Homo sapiens: one gene and its partner. The protein of the gene in region 2 binds, or shares a complex with, the protein of the main gene of each other region. Each region holds a gene or a part of one and is shown on either strand. Other genes may lie near its edges.

Region 1 (7,397 bases), on a different chromosome or scaffold from region 2:
AGTTTCACTCTTGTTGCCCAGGATGGAGTGCGATGGCTTGATTTCGGCTCACTGCAACCTCCACCTCAGCGATTCTCCTGCCTCAGCCTCCCAAGTAGCTGGCCATGTGTCACCACACCTGGCTAATTTTTTTGTATTTTTAGTAGAGACAGGGGTTCACCATGTTGGCCAGGCTGGTCTCAAACTCCTGACCTCAGGTGATCCACCTGCCTCAGCCTCCCAAAGTGCTGGGATTATAGACATGAGCCACTGCGCCCAGCCCTGTTTTATATTATGTTAATAGCTGCTATGTCTATGGCAGAGTTGAACCTACTTCACCACTACTGGAAGCAGAACTCTTCCCTGATTATTTTAAAAACCCTTCTCAAGAGTGTTCTGAGAAATTAAACTTTTCTTGTGACTATGAAGAAACGGGAATTGAATTCAGAAGTATTGGCTGGAAAATTATTTTTGTGTTAGTGAATATAGAAAGGTCTTGACTCAGGGGACATATAAGCATGAGCCATTTTATTCTTCCTTAATCTGAGCCTTCAACCAAACCATTTCAATCCCTCAGTTACAACTGGGGCTCATCATTACCCAGTCACGTCAGTCAGTAAAACCAGCCCAGCTTAAAACTTCGATGTCAGCCTTGATGGAAATCTAATCTCTTCCATCCACCCTGGGTGGGCTGGACTCCCAGGTGGGTGTGTGGGCAGGGGAGGCTTGGGCAGCCCCTCCTCACCTTCCAACCCAGCACTGAGATCCTAAGGCATGGTGGTGCTTTGCTGTTGGGACACCTCTGCTCCCTCCCTCTTCCAGGCTCTGCCTCCCCTAGCGTTGGTGACAGAAAGAGAGACTAAGGGAAAGCCTAAGGCCTGTCCTCTGTAACAGGCCACTCTCCCAGCCTTTCACTGCGGCTGGCTCACCTCTGCAGAGGAGGCATCGAATGCCAGCCTTCTCACCTCCCCAGCCAGGAAAGAAGGCTTGAGCCTAGCGCTTTACTTCTCTGGTGTTTACTTGATCCATATGGAAAATGCCAAAGGTAGGCAGAGTCAGGTGCATTTGTCATCTTCCCTCAGTCCCACTGTCCACCTAAGTTCCCCTCCTTTCAGCTGGGCATGAGGCCTGGCCAGCCAGACCACTGTCCACGCAGAAATCCAAGCCGGGTGGGGATGCCTCATGATGCAATCATCATTACTAAAAAAAGAACAGTGAGAACTGGAGGTGGCTGGGGGCACTCCTCAAAAACATGAGAAGGTTGACCCTGGGTAGGTAATTGTAGCTCATACCTCCCTTGCAATCAAGTAACTTTTATCTCATGAGCAATCTCATTTCTTCACTTGTCAGCTTACAGGGAGCTGGGAGCTGCCACCATGTGGCTATAAAGTATTACTGTACTTCCAAGGACACAGAAAGGAGCGCTAGACTATTGTCACTATGATCACATGCTCAGAATAGAAAGGGAGTGGGGACATCTTCAAGCTCAGGCTCACCCAAGATGTGCAGCAGGTGATGCCCAGAATCACCAGCTGAGTTCCAGGCCCCGTGGCCTACCCAAGTAGGGTTGCCGTGTGGGGAACTGGCATTCTGCTTAGTTATTTTAAACGCTTGAGAATGTTGAAAACTTGTTTGTTTCTAATATATTAAAATACCAGTTCCTATGGTGTTTTTTGTTTTGTTTTGTTTTGAGATGGAGTTTCACTCTTGTTGCCTAAGGCTGGAGTGCAATGATGTGATCTCAGCTCACTGCAACCTCCGCCTCCCGGGTTCAAGGGATTCCCCTGCCTCAGCCTCCGGAGTAGTTGGGATTACAGGTGTGTGCCACCATGCCCGGCTAATTTTAAAATACCAATTTCTTTTAAACTTAAAACGAATGTGAAAGTGGAATCCTTCACTGTTGTCCCCCAGCTCCGCCCAGACTAGAACATTGTGAGGCTAATGCCTTTCTAGCAACAATATTTTAGTCCCCAGCGCTATTCTAGCAGCAGGGAGTGCTCAACTGACGTGGTTTTTTCACATATATTTAACATGGTTTAGCTCACCTGACTTATATATTCTAAATTAGTGATTCTAACTTAATCAGTTTTTTAAAAATAGGCTATCATTATAGAAATATCCACTTTGAAAATAGGCACAAGGTATTCAGTTTCTCTTTATGCACAGGAAATATCTATAGACTTTAAAGTTGTATTTATTATTCTTTTCAATAATAAGCTATTAATTTCAATAAAAATAAACTATTCAAATTAAAATATTCAGCAGCATCTCAGAGCTATGAATGTTCAGTTAAGCAAAGAAAGTTTTTTTTTTTTAATTGGGAGATTTTTATTTTATATTTTATTTTTGATGAGTTCTTTTTTATTTTTATTTTTTAATTTTATTTTTCCATAAGTTATTGGGGTACAGGTGGCATATTGGTTACATGAGTAAGTTTTTCAGTGGAGATTTGTGAGATCCTGGTGCACCCATCACCCAAGCAGTATACACTGCACCATATTTGTTGTCTTTTATCCCTCACCCTCTTCCCACTCTTCCCCCCAATTCCCCAAAGTCCATTGTATGATTCTTATGCCTTTGTGTCCTCATAGCTTAGCTCCCACAAATCAGTGAGAATATACAATGTTTGATTTTCCATTCCTGAGTTACTTCATTTAGAATAATAGTCTCCAATCTCATCCAGGTCACTGCAAATGCTGTTAATTCATTCCTTTTTATGGCTGAGTAGTATTCCATCATATATATCTGTATATACACATATATATACATATATATGTGTATATATATGTGTATGTATATATATACATATATGTGTGTATATATGTGTATGTATATATATACATATATGTGTGTATATATGTATGTATATATGTGTATATATGTACATACACATATATACACATATATGTGTATATATACATATATGCGTGTATATATGTACATACACATATATACACACATATATGTGTATATATGTACATACACATATATACACGCATATATGTGTATATATACATATAGATACGCATATACACATTTTCTTTATCCACTAGTTGATTGATGGGCATTTGGGTTGGTTCCACGATTTTGCAATTGTGAATTTTGCTGCTATAAACGTGCATGTGCAAGTATCTTTTTCGAATAATGACTTCTTTTCCTCTGGGAAGATACCCAGTAGTGGGATTGCTGGATCAAATGGTAGTTCTACTTTTGTTCTTTAAGGAATCTCCACACTGTTTTCCATAGCAGCTGTACTATGTTATATTCCCCCCAGCAGTGTAGAAGTGTTCCCTGATTGTCACATCCACACCAACGTCTACTGTTTTTTGATTTTTTGATTATGGTCATTCTTGCAGGAGTAAGGTGGTATCGCACTGCGGTTTTGATTTGCGTTTTGCTGATCATTGGTGATGTTGAGCATTTTTTCATATGCTTGTTGACCATTTGTATATCTTCTTTTGAGAATTGTCTATTCATGTCCTTATCCCACTTTTTGATGGGATTGTTTTTTTCTTACTGATTTGTTGGAGTTCATTGTGGATTCTGGATATTAATCCTTTGTCAGATGTATAGATTGTGAAGATTTTCTCCCACTCTGTGGGTTGTCTGTTTACTCTGCTGACTGTTCCTTTTGCAGTGCAAAAGCTCTTTAGTTTAATTAGGTCCCAGCTATTTATCTTTGATTTTATTGCATTTGCTTTTTGGTTCTTGGTCATGAAATCCTTGCCTAAGCCAATATCTAGAACAAGCAAAGAAAGTTTACCTTTTATTTTATCTGTTTACTACTTTAAACAAGGTAATGTGATAAAAAGGTCATGTTAAGGTAATCAGGGTTAATGTATCACAGATTGTGTTTTAAAACTTGCTTACTGCAACCTTAAGTATTGGTATAATATAATCTCAAATTGTCTCTTTCAGAATTCTCATGCAAAGACTCCCGGGTTGCCACAGAGATCCCTGTCCATAGGGAGGCTCTTTCCCATCTCTCCTCCCTCCCACTTTAATTCCAAACTCAAAAAGGCAGATTAATCTAAGCTTAAAAAAGGTTTTAGTAGAAATAATTTGAAAACCCCAGAGCCCTGGGATATTGTTGGAATAACGATTTTTAGTGCTTTGGAAAGTAAAAGTTGATTTTTCTTTTCTTTCATTCTTCCCCATCCCTTCCCCCTTAATAAAGTTATCATTCTTGTCATTTTCTAGTTTTTTTTGTTTGGTTCAAGAGGATAAGATTATAGAAAATAGTCACTAACATATCCTGCTATAGAAAGAGATGATTGGACCTTCTATTTGGAAACCAGAACAAACAAGGAAACAAAGAAACAAATAATTCTGCTTTCCGATAGGTGCTGGTTTTACTTCCGCTGGCTGAGCTGTTGTTCCTGAGGTCAGACCCCAGCCAGTCTTTTGTGTACGTGCAGGACCATGGTGGCTTTAGTTTCTACCCCACCCTTCCTAGGAACTCTACTTGTGGCAAACGTATGTTCAAGCTTACAAGTCAGCCCACCCCACTCTGATAAATGCAAGAAAAGCTGAAAAGGGAGGAGCAAGATGGGATGAAAGCATCTGGGCCAAAGTGACCTGAAAACCTTTAGAGAAGAAGCTGCTGGCTGAGAAGGAGGTGTGTGGCTCCGGTGAGACCACCAGCTTGGAGGACTGGTCATCAGCTGCACGTTCTGGGTCTGTCTTGGGTATTCCCATATGGCCATGAGATCCGGGAGGCACCCCTCGCTGCTGCTGCTTCTAGTGCTGCTGCTGTGGCTGCTGCAGGTAAGCTGAGCCTGCAGCCTAGTGCTCAGGTGCAGGGAACTGAAAGCAAAGCACAAGCTGGCCCTGCCCCTTCTAGGCTAAGGGAGGGGAGAGGGACTGAGTGTGACCTGCTGGGACCCAGGGCTGGCTGTCTTGAGAATGGCTTAGGTAGCAGGGGCTCTGGATTTATATAAAGGGAAGTTAAGGGTCCCAGTCTGTTTGGGGCAACAGTGGGAGCAGGCTAAGGGACCTGTTTAAAACTAATTTATATAGTTCACACTATTTTTAGTGAGATTACATCAACACACACGTGTTTTCTTTCTTTGTTTCTTTCTCCTTTTGTTGAGACAGGGTCTGGCTTCATCATCCAGGCTGGAGTGCAGTGGCATGATCAAGGCTCACTGCAGCTTTAACCTCCCAGGCTCAGGTGATCCTTCCACCTCAGCCTCAAGAGTAGCTGGGACTACAGTAACTTACCACCACGCTGGCTAATTTCTGTATTTTTTATAGAGATGGATTTTCACCATGTTGCCCAGGCTGGTCTCGAACTCCTAAGCTCAAGTGATTTATTCGCCTTGCCCTTCCGAAGTGTTGGGTTTACAGGCATGAGCCACCTCACCCAGCCAACACACACAATTTTTTTTTTTTTTTGAGACAGGGTCTCGTCATCCAGGCTACAGTGCGTGGTGACATCTCAGTGCACCGCAACCTCCTCCTACTGGGTTCAAGCAACCTCCTGGCTCAGCCTCCCGAGTACTGGGACTACAGGTGCACGCCACCATGCCCGGCTAGTTTTTGTATTTTTATTAGAGACAGGGTTTCACCATGTTGGCCAGGCTGGTCTCAAACTCCTGACCTCAAGTGATCTGCCTGCCTCAGCCTCCCAAAGTGTTAGGATGACAGGCTTGAGACACTGCGCCCTGCCAAGTTTTATAATGATACTTCTGTTCACACTTTACATAAGATTGAGGAAATCTCAGTTGTCTGGATCCAAGGCAATTTGAGCAAACCCATGGGGATGGAATGGCTAAATCCATTGCCCCCAACTGCCACTGTTTAAATGGGAATACAAACTAGTGGAGTCAGGATTCGAAACACATGGGCTTGCTCTGTTTGTACTTAGAGTGGACAGAGGTAATGTTGCATGCGCTTGTTGGTTATGATCTGCTTCGTTGGCTTTCTGTAGGTAGGGAGAGGGAATCATTTCTTCCTTTGAATACCAGCTGAGGGTGGGAAGCAGCCCAGTGGCTGGTAACTGTGAGCTCTGGACTGGGCTGCTTGGCGTCCTGACCTAGGCTCCTTCACAGCCCGCTGGGGACCTAGGCCAGCTTAACTTTGTTCCTTACCTTGGATCAAGTTGAACTTACCTAGGGAGCTTCAAGGGATCTCAGTGCCTGGGTTTTGCCCCCAAAGGTTCAGGTTGAGCTGACCTGGGAGTGCACTGGGTGTCAGTGCACTGGTTTTAACATAACCTTGTTAAGCCTATTTTTCTTCACCTGAAAATGGAGCTAGTAACTGAATTTATCTGAGCCAGTGGTTGTACCAGTGAATGAGGAAATGCGTAAAAGCCCTTGGTACTGCGAAAGTTGTCAGAATCAGAATGGAGTTCCTTATGTTAAAACACACACACACACACACACACACACAGGCACAAAGCCTGATATATAGACACAAAGAAGGTTATGAAAAGGGGGTTCTCACATTTGTAGGCTTGATAACTAAAACTATCACAAAAGCTCTGCAAAAATAACAACTTTGCACAAAGGCCGTTAAAACCTTACACAAAAAATACTTTTTCGAAGAAATCTTCCCAGCAACTTTTTGTGCAAACTCAGACCAGTGTCACCCTTCTTATTGATCTTTGTAGCCAAAGATAATTATTTCAAAACAATGATATAATCCTTCTCATTTTTTCCTTTGAAAACCTTTATCTCCCTTTACCTCCCTGACTCTGCACATCGTTTACCATGGCACACATATTCCCATGGATATGTCCTTGCCCAGACAAACGTCATCTTCTCTTAGAGAGCCTCTGTCTACTATTAGGTTCACAGTTCAGTAACGACCCAGCCGTTTTTCTAATCACAGTGAAAATGGTTGGCAATATTCATTCAGAGCTCATGCTAAAACTATTTACTGGATACCTGCTTTGGGCCAGGCACTGGGAATACACCAATAAACATAATAGGGGGAAAACCCTGTCTGAAAGTGGATAACTTGTTTGGTACCAGTTGCTTGAGGTTTGGAGAATTTTCTTGGTCACATTTTGCCATATCAAGAGTTACGAGTTTCCTTAGTCAGACAGCACATTAATTTGATCTCCAATACTTCACAGAAGTCCTTTTTAGTAGCCCATGTTTGCATGGATTTGAATATAGTCCAGATCAAATCCTGTCCCCATCCTTCCCTCACTCCTGCTCCTACCCACAATGAGTCTGATCAGGAAACAGACCTGAATTCTCTTCCCTCTGGCGTATTAGTGCAGTGCCAAAGCAAATTAATTGACTTCTGAGGGTGGTTGGGTGGGGGTGGGCAGTGGGAATGGGTCTGTGGATTGTACTTCAGTGATTGATGACAGCAGCTTTATGTAGATTCCAGGGAATCAAGACAGATGAAGAGAACATGATTCAATAGATGTAAGAAGTTTTTAGCAATCAGAATGCTGGACCTTT
Region 2 (7,024 bases):
CAGAAAAGCATTACCATCTATTGATAAAGAACCACTGTTAACATTTTGGTGCATATCCTTTGAGTTTTTTTAATTATACATGTAACTATATCCTATTTTCCCTCTACTAAAATGGAATCTTAACATACTGCTTAATAGCCTACTTTTAAGCTATCTAAGCTATTCATTTTGTTTCCGTGTTTTTTTTTTTTTTTTTTTTTTTTTTGAGATGGAGTCTTGCTCTGTCACCCAGGCTGGAGAGCAGTGGTGCGATCTGGTATTATACCCAGGAGGCTTTTTGTTCCATGCATGGTATTTTATAATGTTAGTAAATACTTTTCCTTAATTTTATAGTAAGCAGAAAATTTTTATGGTTGGGGTGGATGCAAAAGTGATACATAATAGTTTAGAAGACAACCAATTTTGTTTTACCAGCTGTTTGGGCATTTTTAGTACCCCCTTCTTGATTTGAAGGGTTTAATCTTGACCTTTTTTTTTTTTTCTTCGAAATAGAGTCTCGCTCTGTCACTTAGGCTGGAGTGCAGTGGCACAATCTCAGTTCACTGCAACCTCCACCTCTTGGGTTCAAGCGATTCTCTTGCCTCCGCCTCCCAAGTAGCTGGGATTACAGGTGCCCACCACCATGCCCAGCTAATTTTTGTATTTTTAGTAGAGATGGTGTTTTTCCATGTTGGCCATGCTGGTCTCGAACTTCTGACCTCAGGTAATCCGCCCACTGCAGCCTCCCAAAGTGCTGGGATTACAGATGTGAGCCACCATGCCTGGTCCTGTTTCCGTGTTATTTTAAGACCATCTTGGTCATGGTTTACTAAATGCTTTGTCCATCTGAATCACTGTTGCATAGTTGATGTTGATACCTGTGAGGCAGGCCTTCTGCTCAGGGCAACCTTGAGTATTTGTTGACAGTGGGAGTGGTTTTGTAGAACAAACAATGGCTTATTTGGAGAGCTCCACACAATAGATTATCCTCTCCTGTGGGAGCCAGAAAGAGATGAGCTCACAGATAATGGGTTTCTTCCTTCCTGGTAGTTACGAATAAATAATAGTGTGACAGACTCACCCTCTAGTGGTTGTTGGTAGTACTGAAACAGGAAGAATTGTCTCCTGGTTTGATTTTTCTTACTTTCAATTGCTTTCTCTGTTCCTAGTGGCTGGGCTTCCCAAATGTGATGTTGGTGAATAGGCTTCATTTTGAAAGAGCTGGAGGTATTGTCTTTAGAAATTGGAGGATGGAATCTTACCTCTTAACACATTTGTTGAGTAGCAGACATGACCTTGGAATGACTGTGAAAATTACTTTTCAAGTTTATACCTCATCAGTACCAAAGCCAGATCCTCCTGTGATGTAGCAGGAAGCCCTTTATTAGTTTTTCTCTATCAATCCATCTTTTATAATTTCCAAAATAGGATAAGGAGAAGCTTAAATATGAAATGTATTTAAAGGTCTTATCCTACCAGTTGTTTCCTGTGTGTAAATGCCTAATTTCCTGTTTGGTTAAGGAACTGTTCTCAGACTTCTGTGGCATTGAGTCAGTTGCTTTGGTTAATTCTGTTCTCTGAGAGTTTATCCTGATCTCTACCTAGACAAGTTAATAACTGTCAGATATCATTCAAATAAATGATAAGTAGTAAGGATTTGGTTCTTTCTTTTTGATTAGCCTTTCCTGAATGCTTGTTACTTTCTAAGCCTGCAGACTTCAAAGAAAAAAATGTAGTTTTAATTAAATTGCAGGTGTTTTTAAAATTATTACCTTTTATTTTTACTAACCCATTGAGGAAAATTGATCAGTATATTATTCATGCAAAGGAGAGATAAGATGAGCACACTGAAACTCCAGTTAATCCTCCTTTGCAGATGAGGGTAATGGGAATGTCCAGGAAGCTAGCCATAATGACTTGATGTATTCTCTTGGTTCTTCCAAAACTTCTCAGGAGCTATGAAGACATGATTGGTGAGGAGGTGCCATCGGATCAATACTACTGGGCTCCTTTGGCCCAGCATGAGCGAGGAAGTTTAGCAAGCTTGGATAGCCTGCGCAAAGGAGGGCCTCCACCTCCTAATTGGAGACAGCCAGAGCTGCCAGAGGTGATCGCCATGCTTGGATTCCGCTTGGATGCTGTCAAGTCCAATGCAGCTGCATACCTGCAACACTTATGCTACCGCAATGACAAGGTGAAGACTGACGTGCGGAAGCTCAAGGGCATCCCAGTACTGGTGGGATTGTTAGACCATCCCAAAAAGGAAGTGCACCTTGGAGCCTGTGGAGCTCTCAAGAATATCTCTTTTGGACGTGACCAGGATAACAAGATTGCCATAAAAAACTGTGATGGTGTGCCTGCCCTTGTGCGATTGCTTCGAAAGGCTCGTGATATGGACCTTACTGAAGTTATTACCGGTGAGTTCTAGGCCTAAGGAAAATTGCTAAGTCAGTGTTACTCTCTAGTGATGTTGAGAACTAGAGGGATTTCCAGACCTTTTACTTTTGATGAAAGGTTGTGAACTGGTGGCTGTGGGTCAAATCCATCTCACAGATTTGTTTGGATCACACAGCATTATTGAAATTTTAAAGAACTGGTTGCTGATGTTTAAAATTCAGAAGATTTCACTTAAAATTCCAGATTCTTGGCTTCTATTAAAAACGTGGAAGAGTTGTTAACAATGGATCTCTTTTCTTCCTTAGCAGTATTTGGTCTGAACTGATTGGAGCATGTGCTCTCTAATTTACACTAATCTCCAACACATTCTATTATCTGACCAACTACAGCTGTTTAGGAAGTTGTTTCCCAAACATGGAGCTGTCAACTGCTATTTTTTCACATGCTTGTAATTTCTTTTAATTATCTTCCTCTCTTGACTCACCGGCTTGACCCATATAGACATTTAAGCTTGTGGTTCTTGCTTTATTTAGAGCAGTAGTTTTTCAGATTGTGGGTTGTGATCTATTTGTGTGATCCGTTAGTGAATAAAACAAAATTTTGTGGAGCATAATCAGCATTCCAAGGGAAAGGAATAAAGAAAAAGTAGTATAGACCATTGTTTCTCAGTTGTGGGCCATTTTGCCTGCCCTGCCCTGAGGACATTTGGACATTTGCAGTGTTGGAGATATTTTTGGTTGTTATAACTTGGAACAGGGGAGAGGGAGTGCTACTGGCATCTAGTGAGTAAAGGCCAGGGGTACTGGTAAACATCCAACAATAGACAAGACAGCTCCTCATAACAAAGAATCATCTGGCCGAAAATGTCAGTGGTGCTGAGGTTGAAAAACTCTGGTATAGACAGATCGGAGAGCATTGAGCATTGCTTATAGTTTTGTTTGTTTTTTTTGAGATGGAGTCTCGCTCTGTCACCCAGGCTGGAGTGCAGTGGCACAATCTCAGCTCACCGCAAGCTCCGCCTCATGGGTTCACGCCATTCTCCTGCCTCAGCCTCCCAAGTAGCTGGGACTACAGGTGCCCGCCACCACGCCCGGCTAATTTTTTGTATTTTTAGTGTTAGCCAGGATGGTCTTGATCTCCCAACCTTGTGATCCGCCCGCCTTGGCCTCCCAAATTGCTGGGATTACAGGCGTGAGCCACCACACCCAGCCTGAGCGTTGCTTATAGTTAAACATTGTTTGTTTCATGATCTGTATGTTTATTTTGAGCTATAATGTAGAATATGTTTCTTGGTGAGGGTCGCAAACAAAGCTTGAATATTACTATAAGGTATTTGGTCACTGGGGAAGACTGAGAAGTGATACGATAGGGGGATTCTCTTTGACGTTCTTCAGACATATTGTCTTGAATGCTCAAGAGCCATCTGATGAATTGTCTCTTCCAGGAACCCTGTGGAATCTTTCATCCCATGACTCAATCAAAATGGAGATTGTGGACCATGCACTGCATGCCTTGACAGATGAAGTGATCATTCCTCATTCTGGTTGGGAGCGGGAACCTAATGAAGACTGTAAGCCACGCCACATTGAGTGGGAATCGGTGCTCACCAACACAGCTGGCTGCCTTAGGTAACAGTAGGGACTTTGAGAATATGAAGATGAATTTTTGAGGACTGACTTAAATTTCCTAAAAAAAAAAAAAAATTAAAATTCTTTAGCCTATTCTTTAGCCTCCATTCCTATCTGTATTGCATACTGTAACTCCAACCTTTCTATCTTTGTTGCTATTCTCTCATGTATACCACATGTACCTATATCAGTTTTCTTGCTGTTCCCCACACATCCTCTTCACTTTTATGCCTCTTTGACTTTGTTCATCTACTTTGGTAAGCTTTTGTTCAGCATCTACCACATGTAAGGTGGTCTAGTCCTGGACTTGTGTGTGTCTATGTCCTTGCCCTAGTTATTTGTATTTCAAGTCAGGCTGTGATAAATTCAGCAAAAGGGGTACAGAGTACTAGGAGGTTAGGGCATGGGTGAGGAAGGTCTGTTCTTTCTGTGATGCCTTTCTCTTCTTATTTATCTTTTTGTGGTTAAACTCAAGTGCCTTTATTTTATTAAAGTTTTCCTGAATTCTTTTTATATCCTATAAATGCTGCTATATAATCTTTCTCTCTTTGGAATACACCTCTGTGTGCTGTGTTCCATTCTACATATGTATTATATACTTCCATACGAGAAGTATATATTCCATCTTGAATTACTGCATCTGGTACATATCATTAATCCCTACCCCACAGTGATATAAACATTCAGAAGGCAGGGACTGTTAATCAACTTTCTCTCAACTGCAGTACCTTGCTTATAATAGGTATTTACTATTACAGTGAGTAGAAAAACATATTCAGGAATCTTGTAGGTGTTGAGGGATATTTAAGGGAGGATTTCTGGATTTGAGTCATCTTGAAGCTTCTGGTTTCCCCTCAGGAATGTAAGCTCAGAGAGGAGTGAAGCTCGCCGGAAACTTCGGGAATGTGATGGTTTAGTTGATGCCCTCATTTTCATTGTTCAGGCTGAGATTGGGCAGAAGGATTCAGACAGCAAGGTAAGTGCTGTCTTACCTTTAATGGCTGAGTGAATTTCATTCACCACAACTATGAAGTATCTGTAGGTCAGAGACCTATCATCTCAGGCTTTCAAGTAACATTAAATATTTATACTGTCCCCTACCCCTTATTTTTGAGACAGAGTCTTGCTCTGTTGCCCAGCCTGGGGTGCAGTGATGTGATCTCAGCTCACTGCAACTTCTGCTTCCTGGGTTCAAGCGATTCTCATGCCTCAGCCTCCCAAGTAGATGGGATTACAGGCGTGTGCCACCACACCCAGCTAATTTTTGTATTTTTAGTAGAGACGGGGTTTCACCATGTTGGCCTGGCTGGTCTCAAACTCTTGACCTCACGTGATCCCCCTGCCTCAGCCTCCCAAAGCATTGGGATTACAGGCGTGAGCCACTGTGCCCAGCCAAGCCCTTACTCCTTAAAGTGGGTATTCAACTTAAAACATGTTTTTTGTTTGTTTGTTTGTTTTTTTGAGATGGAGTCTGGCTCTGTCCCAGGCTGGAGTACAGTCCCGTGATCTCGGCTCATTGCGACCTCTCCCTCCTGGGTTCAAGCAATTCTCTGCCTCATCTCCTGAGTAGCTGGGATTACAGGCACCTGCCACCATGCCCGGCTAATTTTTGTGTTTTAGTAGAGACAGGGTTTCACCAGGTTGGTCAGGCTGGTTTTGAACTCCCGACCTCAGGTGATCCACCCGCCTCGGCCTCCCAAAGTGCTGGGATTACAGGTGTGAGCCACTGTGCCCGGCTTTTTTTTCTTTTTTTTTTAAATCTGTCACCTATGTATTTTAAAGCTGCTTAGCTGTCTTCCAAAATTGTACATTGTCTAAGTAGTAAGAATGATGATCCAATTTCAGTCACACACCAAATAGTGGCAGAAGCCAATAAGTCCATAGTTGGACCTTCCATTAGCCTGAGGCTACCGGGATTTCAAGAAGCCTGGAGCACTTAAGAGGCATCCTGAGAAGTTATGGATTGGGTTATGCATTTGAAGATCAACATTTTAATACCTGAGTCATGGAAACCTGTACTTGTGGAGAAATCACAATAGACATTCTTTTTTCTCATTGGCCCTTTTATGTCCCTAAGCTTGTAGAGAACTGTGTTTGCCTTCTTCGGAACTTATCATATCAAGTTCACCGGGAGATCCCACAGGCAGAGCGTTACCAAGAGGCAGCTCCCAATGTTGCCAACAATACTGGGCCACATGCTGCCAGTTGCTTTGGGGCCAAGAAGGGCAAAGGTGAGTCTTGGTTCCTGTTTCTTAGTCTTTAATGTGGGATAGGGAAAGGAAGGAACACTTTAGCTTAAGGTACAAAATACTTGGCAACAGTATGGGAGTCTGCCTGGTTATGGATGTCTTTTTGGTTTGCTGCTTTCCCTGTGTTGTGTGCTTCATTCAAGGTGTGGTGATGGGATGGTGGTTGTGATGTGTTGGTGGTGGTGGTGGTGGTGGTGGTGGTGGTATCAATGAGTGGGGCAGTGGAAAATGAGAACTCAACTAATCTGGGACCTTCTTCCCCATACGTCCTTTGCATTTTCTGTGTTTTTCTTTTCTTCTCTGTGCTTCCCTGCTTATTTGCCCATGATTCTGCTGACATCTTTCTCCTGCATTTTTCTTATTTCATTTCTCTTCTCTGCTTTCTACCTTGGGTGATGCACTGGAAGATGAGTGGTTCTCCAGAGGTGAGTGGAGTCTTTTAAGGTGCTTATCTACTTCTAATTTGCATGTTTTGATTTTAGCTTCCCTAGTATGTCCTTGCCTAACCTTTCCCTGTCTATGCATGTAGGAAAGTTCAGTTGAGGAAGACACTGAAACAAGTTTAGCTCTTTGGAGCTAATAGCTCACGGCATGCTGTTTCTGGGCAGCAGTCCCCATTATCAGAACTCAGGACAATAGCATCAACAGTGGTCATCCTCATCTTACCTATCTGCTGCCTGTTTTCTATCCTTGTTTCTGAATAGTCCCCTGCTGGAACAAGTTGCCCTCACCTGCCCCTTTTCCCCTCGTGGTGCATCTGTGATCAAAAGG

The links.
Region 1: CTNND1 (region 2) and CDH26 share a complex: the UniProt entries of both Homo sapiens proteins name them as parts of the cadherin:catenin adhesion complex.

Annotation. Positions count from the first base shown.
Region 1 is NC_000020.11:59,954,050-59,961,446, forward strand, and holds the start of CDH26 (cadherin-like protein 26 isoform a precursor), read left to right. Parts: upstream 1-4,373; 5' UTR 4,374-4,677; coding exon 4,678-4,746; intron 4,747-7,397. UniProt on the Homo sapiens protein: Cadherins are calcium-dependent cell adhesion proteins. They preferentially interact with themselves in a homophilic manner in connecting cells; cadherins may thus contribute to the sorting of heterogeneous cell types.
Region 2 is NC_000011.10:57,799,801-57,806,824, forward strand, and holds part of CTNND1 (catenin delta-1), read left to right. Parts: intron 1-1,932; coding exon 1,933-2,396; intron 2,397-3,820; coding exon 3,821-4,004; intron 4,005-4,862; coding exon 4,863-4,980; intron 4,981-6,081; coding exon 6,082-6,235; intron 6,236-6,660; coding exon 6,661-6,678; intron 6,679-7,024. UniProt on the Homo sapiens protein: Key regulator of cell-cell adhesion that associates with and regulates the cell adhesion properties of both C-, E- and N-cadherins, being critical for their surface stability.